Homo sapiens: one gene and its partners. The protein of the gene in region 1 purifies or fractionates together with the protein of each later gene. This does not show direct contact. Each region holds a gene or a part of one and is shown on either strand. Other genes may lie near its edges. The genes, in order: GPR34, NDUFC2 and XPO4.

Region 1 (3,058 bases):
TGTGGCCAAGAGTAAAGATCATAACCTCTTGAACTTTCTTTCTTTCTTCCTTTTTTTATTTTAGAGACAGGTTCATGCTATGTTGCCTTGGCTGGCAGGCTGGTCTTGAACTCCTGGTCTCAAGTGATTCTCCAGCCTCAGTCTCCCAAAGTGTTGGGATTACAGGCGTGAGCCACTGTACCTGGCCAACCTTTTGATCTTTCATTACCTCTTTTGTGATACCTACCTCACAGAGTATTGCAAGAATTATGTAAAGGAAGTAATATAAATGTGTTTAACACAGTGTCTGGTACACAGAAAGTACTAAATAAATATTAGTTAATGGTTTGGCCATCTAGCTTAAGAGTTCAATTCTGACTGCACATTAAAATCCCCTAAGGAGCTTTTAAAGGAAACCAGTGCCTGAAACCCATTCCAGACCAATTAAATCAGAATATCTGGGGAAGGAGCCAAGCACTGGTATCTTTAAAAAACCCTCAAGAGGATTCTAATATGCAGCCAGGATTGAGAACCACTGATAATCCCTTCTACAAAGAACCCAATTGGTGGTAGTCTCAAAAATCTCCAGTGGTAAGATCCTTATATTGCCTCCCAAGAGAGATCATTTCATTAGAAAAAAATGATTTCCTTAAAAGGAGGCAACATCTGTCTCTGCAATTTCTATCATTGGTTCTTGTTTTGCTTTGTGAAGACACATATAACAAAGTGAAACCCTTTTCTCTATGGCTTTGTAAAGCATTCTCATCTCCAGGGTAACGTGCCTATTTCCTTCAACTTGCTTCTTTGACATGATTTGAGTTCTTCTCTCCATTTGGTCCATGGCCTTTTCTAAGTGTGCTGCTGTGGATCAAACACTGCATTCCAGGTGAGACCCTACCAGCCTGGGACAGAAGCAGCATAGTAGTAACAATTTTCATTTCAGACATCACGTATCTAGGAATTCAACTAAAGATGGGTTTTTCGTTGCCACCACACTACGCTAGTGATAGAGCAATTGCAATTGTGTTTGTTAATGCAGCTAAAGCTCTTCCTGTACTTGTACAGCTGCTTTTAATATCCACATGTAGAACTTCATATACATTTCTACTAAATTCCCTCTTTGATTTAATAATATTTATTATGCTAAGCATTAGGTACAGAGAGCCGAACAAAATTGACTTGGTTCTTAATCCTAATGGAACTTAAATTCTAACATGAGAGAAGAAAAAAAATCCAAAATAACTACTCACAGGTGAGTTTTTCACGTCATTTCAGCTACTTGAGCTCTCAAAATCACATTACTTCTTGTGCCTCAATTCCCTGAACCTATGAGAGCTCCCTACATAACCACACAATATAGGTGGTTCCTCTACAGACACCCTTTTCCTTTTCCTGGTAATGCAGGTTGCATTATCAGTTTCATTTTTGGTAGCCTGACATTCTTTCTAGATTGCCCTTTCCTTTTAGAATCTTAGATCACAGGTTGGGCATAGTGGCTCACACCTGTAATTCCAGCACTTTGGGAGGCCGAAGTGGGCAGATCACCTGAGGTCAGGAGTTCGAGACCAGCCTGGCCAACGTGGTGAAACCCCATCTCTACTAAAAATACAAAAATTAGCCGGGCATGGTGGCGGGCGCCTGTAATCCCAGCTACTCGGGAGGCTGAGGCAGGAGAATCGCTTGAAGCCAGGGGGCGGAGGTTGCAGTGAGCCGAGATCACGCCATTGCACTCTAGCCTGGGTGACAAGAGCAAAACTCTGTCTCAAAAACAAAACAAAACAAACAAACAAACAAAAACCAGAATCTTAGATCACAAGAAACATGCCTATACCTTTCTATAAACTTTCTGAAATTTGTCTTCCTGCAGTTGAGACACATGACAGACTAGACTCAGTCCTTCCCCGCTCCCTTCCTTTCTCCCTCCACTTTCCTGAATTCTGGAAACAGGCTCTTACCAGGGATTACATAACTTCCTCTTCACCAGCCAGTTCCTCTTCTGTGGAATCAATGCTCCCCAACTTTACAACATTTTAAATCTTAATGTTACCCTCTACCAAAATGCTTTGTTTTTAATCAAATTATGTGTAGAGCTTTAAGAAAGGCTATTTTTCTCTGTGTATAAGATCAAATCAGGGACTTAATTTATGTAATTCAAATCCACTTTGCATGGTAGCAGTCAGGGTTTGAATGTCCACTCCTCCAAAATGTTTACTAATAGGGTCTCTGTCTTATTCACCTTCCTTTCCCACACAGTACTTAGCCAAGTGTGAGATATTTACTAAAATGAGATTAATCAAAAGGTGTTTATTAAAGCTAACTTTTATTAAGCAGTCACTATGTGCCAGGATTAAGTTCTTCTTATGCATTTTTCATTTTCACAAATGAGAAAACTAAGGCATAGAAAAGATTAAGTTATTTGCCCTTGGTCACAAGTTAGTTGGGTCTGATTTTGAGAACCTTGCTCTGGGCATCTTTATGTTAACCCTGCTAAGTGGCTGCTGTAGAGAAATAGGGCAGTCACTCTATGAGAGGAATGTGATGAGACCTCCAGAAATGCTTTCTTTACTTGTTATGACCAGCTCTCAGACTAAGCTCTTTACAGCAGTCAATGGGCCAATAATAAGTAGCTTTGCAAATATTCTCTGCTGCCACAAACAAGTAGAATTCAAACACTATCTCTTCGAAGGTTCTAGCAAGTCTCAAATTATTGAACCCAGGGCACATTTAAGCTTTGGTCAGGTTACTTTCAAAATCTTGGATTGCACATGCTGTTTCCCATCTACGTTATTACTCTATGCTTCTAGGTTAGGAGTGGCTAACTGGCAGCTGCCAGCTAACTTGGTTTTGTTTGGTTACTTTTTTCTCCTGTCCAGTGATACAAGAGTCTGTGTAACCTTGCAGGTGCTGTATTCTCTTAGTCTATTATGTTAATTGCATGCCCTAAGACCCCTACCTTGGTCTTAGGCTGAAAAGAAATTTAGGATCCTCTTCTTTATTCCCACTTATAGAATGAGACCACCACAAGTCACACGCCATGTAGCAATACATGTCAAAATGAATGAATGCCACATATGAGGGA
Region 2 (3,657 bases), on another chromosome or scaffold:
AATGGCGCAATATCAGCTTACTGCAACCTCTGCCTCCCAGGTTCCAATGATTCGCCTGCCTCAGCCTCCCAAGTAGCTGAGACTACAGGCACCCGCCACCACCCCCAGCCAAATTTTGTATTTTTAGTAGAGACAGGGTTTCACCATGTTGGCCAGGCTGGTCTCGAACTCCTGACCTCAGGTGATCCACCTGTCTTGGCCTCCCAAAGTGCTGGGATTACAGGTGTGAGCCACTGCGTCCAGCCAAAAATGTAACTCTTAATACACATGGACTAATTTTTGCTTTCTTTGGGATTTGTCATTTGAATTTCAGGTTTGCATCGCCAGCTTCTATATATTACGGCCTTTTTTTTTGCTGGATATTATCTTGTAAAACGTGAAGACTACCTGTATGCTGTGAGGGACCGTGAAATGTTTGGATATATGAAATTACATCCAGAGGATTTTCCTGAAGAAGGTATTTCAAGTTAATTTTAGATAATCTGTGTTTACTGTATTATTATTTTCCCTGGTTAATCTTATCCATGTGTATGGCTTTAGATACCTTCTAAATTCTGTTGACTCCCACATCTTAGTCTATAGACCAAAATTCTCTTGAATTAATATATCCAGTTTCTGACTACCTCCGTGTCCTTTGGACAGCAAACAAAACTCATATCCCCTCTGCCTTCCCAAACCTCCTGCTCCTCTGTGTCCTGCTTCAGAGAATGGCACTACTGTCCACCTGGACACTCAAGCCAGAAGCCTGAGAATCATCAAGTCTTTCTCTTTCACTTCCCATTAGTCATCAGGTCTTATCAGTTCTACTTCCTAAATATTTCTTAACTTTGAACTCTCCTCTCCCACTACCACTACCCTGGTTCAGGCCTTGTTAATCTCTTGCTTGGACTGTTGCACTTGCCTCTTAACTCACCACTTGCTTTGGTCTTATTTCCAATGACAGCAAATCTGATCACATCTGTTTAAAATAGTCATCCGGCTGGTCGCAGTGGCTCACGCCTGTAATCCCAGCACTTTGGGGGGCCGAGCGGGGCAGATCACCTGAGGTCAGGAGTTTGAGACCAGCCTGGCCAACATGGCGAAACCCTGTCTCTATTAGAAATACAAAAATTAGCCGGGCATGATGGCGGGTGCCTGTAAGCCCAGCTACTTGGGAGGCTGAGGCAGGAGAATCGCTTGAACCTGGGAGGCGGAGGTTGCAGTGAGCTGAGATCGCGCCATTGCACTCCAGCCTGGGTGTCACAGCAAGACTGTGTCTCAAAAAATAAAATAAAATTAAAATAAAATAAATAAGTCATCCATTGCCTAGTGGATAAAATCCAGACTCCTTAGGATGGCTCATTTACTCCAGGTTAGCTAATTGCCTGTCCTCTGGTAGAAACACTTTACCCACATTCTTATCTACCATATGATATACACATGTGTGTGTTCTTCATGGATTGTAGCTTCGTCTTTGTTTCCCCAGCCTCTTGTATAGAGCCTACACATAGCAGGCACTTACTTATGCATAATAGTGGATATGAACCGTATGGAATACTTCCTCATTCCTCATCACTCATCATTTGCCTGGTGAAATGCTTTGTCCCGAACCTGCCCTATATTACTTTATACATGTTGTACCTTCTTCCTGCTATGTTATTCTTCCTCTTGCCCCTGTTTCCACCCCATCCACCTAGCAAATTTCTGCTTTTATTATCTCAGTGAAGCTTTCACCCAGCTACAGTCAGGCATTCCCTCAGGGTGCTCTATCTCTAGTCTGCTATGAATCTATTAATAGTTGTAATATAACTTTTCTCACCTGTGTTTTACACACATATACACAACACAGATGTGCACATATATGAGTATCTGTAGGCTGGGAGTTTAACTACTACGACAGTTTTTTTTGGTTTCCCCAGGGGTTTGGCACACATAGCCTTATTAAATGTGTAAATGAATGAGTATAGAAAAAATTTGAACTTGTAAACATAAATAGATTTTCCCCAGTCTCGGCAACATAGTGAGACCTCATCTCTACAGAAAATTAAAAAATTAGCTGGGTGAGGTGGCACATGCCTATAGACCCATTGACTTGGGAGGCTGAGGCAGGAGGATTACTTGAGCCTGGGAGGACAAGGTGCCGTGAGCCGTGATCACACCACTGCATTCCAGCCTAGGTGACAGAGCGAGACCCTGTCTCAAAAAAAAAAAAAAAAAAAAATTCTTCTGTTAATGTAAATGCGTGATATAAAACATTTAAATTTCATTACACTGAATGATCTCTAAGGTCTTATTTAGCTCTAAAATTTTATTACTCTTTAATATTCCCACAGCCTTCAGTCACATATATGATATTTATGGTGGATCAGAAAGATACAGTTTCTTTTTTTGCCAAAGAAGAGCTTAAAGACTAGCACAAAGCCATGAATAGTGGATGTATCGGGAATGCATAATACCCAGAACCGTTAAATGTTAGAGCTGGAAGTCATCTTGGATATATTGATTACTAGGAGTGAGGCCCAGTGGCTTGAGGAGTCTTCAGTCTCAGACCTCTGGCTCTTTGCCTAGACATAGTTCCATGAGTTCCCTGTGTCTGCAGGAGTGTGTATAGCTTCAGGGCTCATTCTCTTTCTGAGCTGCAGATTAGTGGCAGTTGTGCCAAGAGCCTCATGCACAGACAGTGGGAGCCCGGAGAGCTTGACCACATTGGCTGTTGGCCTCTCCTAGCTGACCTGTGCCCCTCTGTGTTTATTTCTTCCTTCACCTCTTCAGTCAGGATACTCCTGGCAGCACCTTGTCCCTCTTGGCAGTCATTTGGTTGTCATCACAGATTCCTCCAAAGTTATTCTTCAGTCAATGAAAGAAAATCCTTCAGTGATTACCAAGCCATAGTCAAGGACAAGAAAATAAGGAAATTCTTAGGGGTTTGTCTTAGTCCGTTTGGCCTACTATAACAAAATGCCTTAAACTGGGTAATTAAAAAAAATTTTTTAACTTTGTTTTTCTTACCACCTGTATAATTGCAGAATAGACTGGGTAATATATAAGTAATAGAAATTTATTGCTTGCAATTCTGGAGGCTGGGAAGTCCAAGATCAGGGTACCAGCACAGTTGGTGTCTGCTGAGGGCCCACTCTGCTTCATAGATGATGCCATCTTGCTGTGTCCTCACATGGTAGAAGAGGCAAACAAGGTCCCCTAAGCCGATCCCCCTCATGAGGACAGAGCCTTTGTGACCTAATCACCTCCCAAAGTCCTAACCTCTTAATATCGTTATCTTGGGGGTTACATTTCAATTTATGAACTTTGGGGGGACATGAACATTCAGACCACAGCAGGATTTCAATCATAAGATTAGTGAGTGTTAATTTTCGTTTAGGAAATACAATTTTTAAAACATATTTTTAAAATAAATCTTTTATGATCTTTCCTTTTATAGATAAGAAAACATATGGTGAAATTTTTGAAAAATTCCATCCAATACGTTGAAGTCTTCAAAATGCTTGCTCCAGTTTCACTGATACCTGCTGTTTCTGAATTTGATGGAACATGTTTCTTATGACAGTTGAAGCTTATGCTAATCTGTATGTTGACACCTTGTAATTAAAATACGTACCATGAGTACTCTGACTCTTTATTGTTGTAAGAAAAATAGTTCATCATCAGAGAATGGTCAGT
Region 3 (3,657 bases), on another chromosome or scaffold:
TGTTATAAAAGAACTACCAATAACTTGAGACCACCCTGGGCAATACAGCAAGATTTCGTCTCTACAAAAACATTGTAACATAGCCAGGTGTGGTGGCGTGCACCTGTGGTCCCACCTACTCGGGAGGCTAAAGGGGGAGGATCGCTTCAGCCCAGGAGTTTGAGGCTGCAGTGAGTCATGATCACACCACTGCATTCCAGCTGGGTTTTAGAGTAACTCCAAAAAGTAAAAAATAAAAAAAAAAAAATAAAAGAACTACACTGTTATAAAAGGACAGGTGAATCTCACCTTTCAGGCAGGCTAAGGAAGGCTTCCCTGAGAAACTGACTACTGAGAGAACTGAAGGATGAAGTGACAGGGAAGAAAAGCATTCCAGACAGAAGGACTAGTATATGAGAGGCCCTGTGACAGGACACAGGACACAAGTGGGAAGGGTTGCAAAAAAGCTAGTGTGGCTGATGAAGAGAAAAAGCGACTGGAAAAGAGTCAACAGAAGCTGGAAAGGCAGTAACTTATCCAAAGCCTCACAAGGTGCAAACATTTTTAAAGAAAAATGCTTTATATTTCACAACACTTAATGGCACTTTTCCCCTGCTTTTTGTGAACAAGAGGCCTTACATTTTCATTTTCACTGGGCCCTGCAAATTATGTAGGTAGCCCTGGCTGGACAACAAAGACAGTGGACAGAAACAGTCTTATGGCTCGGATACAAGGCAGAGGCCACCCACTCACTATACTGACCCTTCAGACCCACTAAGAAAGACAAAAAAGATGAGGATATGGAATGAAACACGGTCTCCATGGCCAAGCACGGTGGCTCATGCCTGTAATCCCAGCACTTTGGGAGGCCGAGGTGGGAGGATCACGAGGTCAGGAGTTCGAGACCAGTCTAGCCAACATGGTGAAACTCCCTCACATGGTGAAACCCCGTCTCTACTAAAAATACAAAAATTAGCCGGGCATGGTGGCACGTGCCTGTAATCCCAGGAACACAGGAGGCCAAGTCAGGAGAATTGCTTGAACCTGGGAGGCGGAGGTTGCGGAGGTTGCAATGAGCCTAAACGTGCATTGCGCCACTGCACTCCTGGCTGACAGGGTGAGACTCTGTCTCAAAAAAAAAAAAAAAGAAAGAAACATGGCCTCCTAAATTAGAACCTCCGTAGGTAAGGCAAAGGAAACTGCAGTTTTTTGTTTTGTTTTGTTTTTGAAACAGAGTTCGCTCTTGTTGCCCAGGCTGGAGTGCAATGGCATGATCTTGGCTCACTGCATTCTCCGCCTCCCGGGTTCAAGTGATTCTCCTGCCTCAGCCTCCCGAGTAGCTGGGAATACAGGCATGCGCCACCACACCAGCTAATTTTGTATTTTTAGTAGAGACAGGGTTTCTCCATGTTGGTCAGGCTGGTCTCGAACTCCCAACCTCAGGTGATCTGCCCGCCTCAGCCTCCCAAAGTGCTGGGATTACAGGTGTAAGCCACGGTGTCCAGCCAGAAATCTGCAGTTTTAATAATCACCCTAAGATTGGTTATGCATGTTCTAAACTCTGAAAAACCCTTCTCTAAAATATTGTCAAATTACAATGGACCTAATTTTTCCCATAATTACAAACAGAGAAAGAGTGAATCCCTATCTCTTTTTCAGAATAAAGTTTATTAGTTTTCTATTAGCTCTTTCTCACTCAAAAGACATTTTTCCTTTTATTTATTCACAAGGTTATATTATACTTAGCAGTGATTAAACAAATCTGTGGAAATGGAATGCCCTGCATTTGCATTTATAAGTCTATAAATGCAAAACCACAAACCTAGTCTTAGTCTGAACCATGATACAGCTTTGAACATTCTTCAACATAAAAATAATTGCAGGACATTCAAGGAAGTAGATTTTAAAAGTAGATTTTTTTTTTGGCCGGGTGTGGTGGCTCACGTCTATAATCCCAGCACTTTGGGAGGCCAAGGCAGGTGGATCACCTGAGGGTCAGGAGTTCAAGACCAGCCTGGCCAACATGGTAAAACCCCGTCTCTACTAAAAATACAAAAAATTAGCCAGGCATCATGGCAGGCACCTGTAAATCCCAGCTACTGGGGAGGCTAAGGCAGGAGAATCACTTGAACCCAGGAGGTGTAGGTTGCAGTGAGCCGAGATGGCGCCATTGCACTCCAGCCTGGGCAACAAGAGTGAAACTTCATCTCAAAGAAAAAAAAAAAAAAAGGTAGATTTTTTTAAAACACATGCAACATTCAGGCTGGGTGTGGTATCTCACGCCTGTAATCCCAGCATTCTGGAAGGCCGAGGCGAGCGGATCACCTGAGGTCAGGAGTTTGAGAACAGCCTGGTCAACATGGTAAAATACTGTCTCTACTAAAAACACCAAAATTAGCCAGGCATGGTGGCGTGCACCTGTAGTCCCAGCTACTCTAGAGGCTGAAGCAGGATAATTGCTTGAACCCGGGAGGCAGGGGTGGCAGGGAGCCGAGATTGCGCCACTGCACTCCAGCCTAGGCAACAGAGTGAGACTCCATCTCAAAGAAAAGAAAATAGAAATGCATGCAACATTCAAATTTACTAAAACGGAGTATTAATTTATGGTCTAAATTTTTATATTGTAAAAAATTCAAACTATATTAAAACTATATTAAGCACTCCTCCCATGTGCAATCTCATTCCCTATGCAGCCATTCTTAGAAGTTTAGTATAGGCCAGGCACAGTGGCTCACAGCTGTAATCCTAGCACTTTGGGAGGCTGAAGCTGGCAGATCACCTGTGATCAGAAGTTCAAAACCAGCCTGGCCAACAAGGTGAAACCCTGTCCCTACTACAAACACAAAAATTAGCTGGGTGTGGTGGTGCATGCCTGTAATCCTAGCTACTCGGGAGGCTGAGGAAGGAGAATCACTTGAACCTGAGAGGCAGAAGTTGCAGTGAGCCGAGATCGCACCATTGCACTCCAGCCTGGGTGACAGAGCAAGACTCTGTCTCAAAAAAAAAAAAAGAAGTTTAGTATAAGCCTTCCATTTCCGTTTCTATGCATATACAAATATATACAGAACTTTTTCTAGAAAACAGAAATGGGATCATATATTCTATTCTGCAATTTTTCGTCTTATTTTGAGTATCTTTCCATGTTCATTCAGATCTTCCCATTTAAAAAAAAAGCTATCACATTTTAGATATACCATATTTTTTAAGAGTTCCATAAAATTCCATTATAAAGAATACCAGTATATTAAATCAATTTGGTGTAACTGGACATTTACGTTGTTTCAATCTTCACTACAGCAAAGTACACTACAGTAAACATTCTTTGTGTATAAGCAAGTATTTCCATAAACTGAATAAATGGCCAGAAGTGAAATAGCTGGGGGTCAGCTATATATTGAAGGCTCTTGTATCGAAAACTTGTAGCATACTTCCCTATACCTTTACAATGTGAAATAACATTTTATTCTTAGTTCTGTTTCTAGACTATTCTAACTTTCTATTCTTTTCCTATGCCAATGCTATGTTTCAATTACTTTAGCTTCTGAATACATTGTAATAGTTGCTACATCAAGTCCCCAAACCCTTCACAGACTTCCAGATATATTTTCTAATCAATTAATTTTTCTCCCACCTCAGAAAAGGGTGAGGAGGAAAGAGAGATTTTGATTGACATTATAT

What was found.
Region 2: the proteins of GPR34 (region 1) and NDUFC2 purify together in Homo sapiens (affinity purification with mass spectrometry; one large-scale study listed by BioGRID and IntAct). This does not show direct contact.
Region 3: the proteins of GPR34 (region 1) and XPO4 purify together in Homo sapiens (affinity purification with mass spectrometry; one large-scale study listed by BioGRID and IntAct). This does not show direct contact.

What each region holds. Positions count from the first base shown.
Region 1 is NC_000023.11:41,691,872-41,694,929, forward strand, and holds part of GPR34 (probable G-protein coupled receptor 34), read left to right. Parts: intron 1-3,058.
Region 2 is NC_000011.10:78,069,798-78,073,454, reverse strand, and holds part of NDUFC2 (NADH dehydrogenase [ubiquinone] 1 subunit C2), read left to right. Parts: intron 1-313; coding exon 314-457; intron 458-3,418; coding exon 3,419-3,468; 3' UTR 3,469-3,544; coding exon of another isoform or gene 3,545-3,582; 3' UTR 3,583-3,657. Other genes in the region: NDUFC2-KCTD14 (NADH dehydrogenase [ubiquinone] 1 subunit C2, isoform 2), read left to right, coding at 314-457.
Region 3 is NC_000013.11:20,892,656-20,896,312, forward strand, and holds part of XPO4 (exportin-4), read right to left. Parts: intron 1-3,657. UniProt on the Homo sapiens protein: Mediates the nuclear export of proteins (cargos), such as EIF5A, SMAD3 and isoform M2 of PKM (PKM2). In the nucleus binds cooperatively to its cargo and to the GTPase Ran in its active GTP-bound form.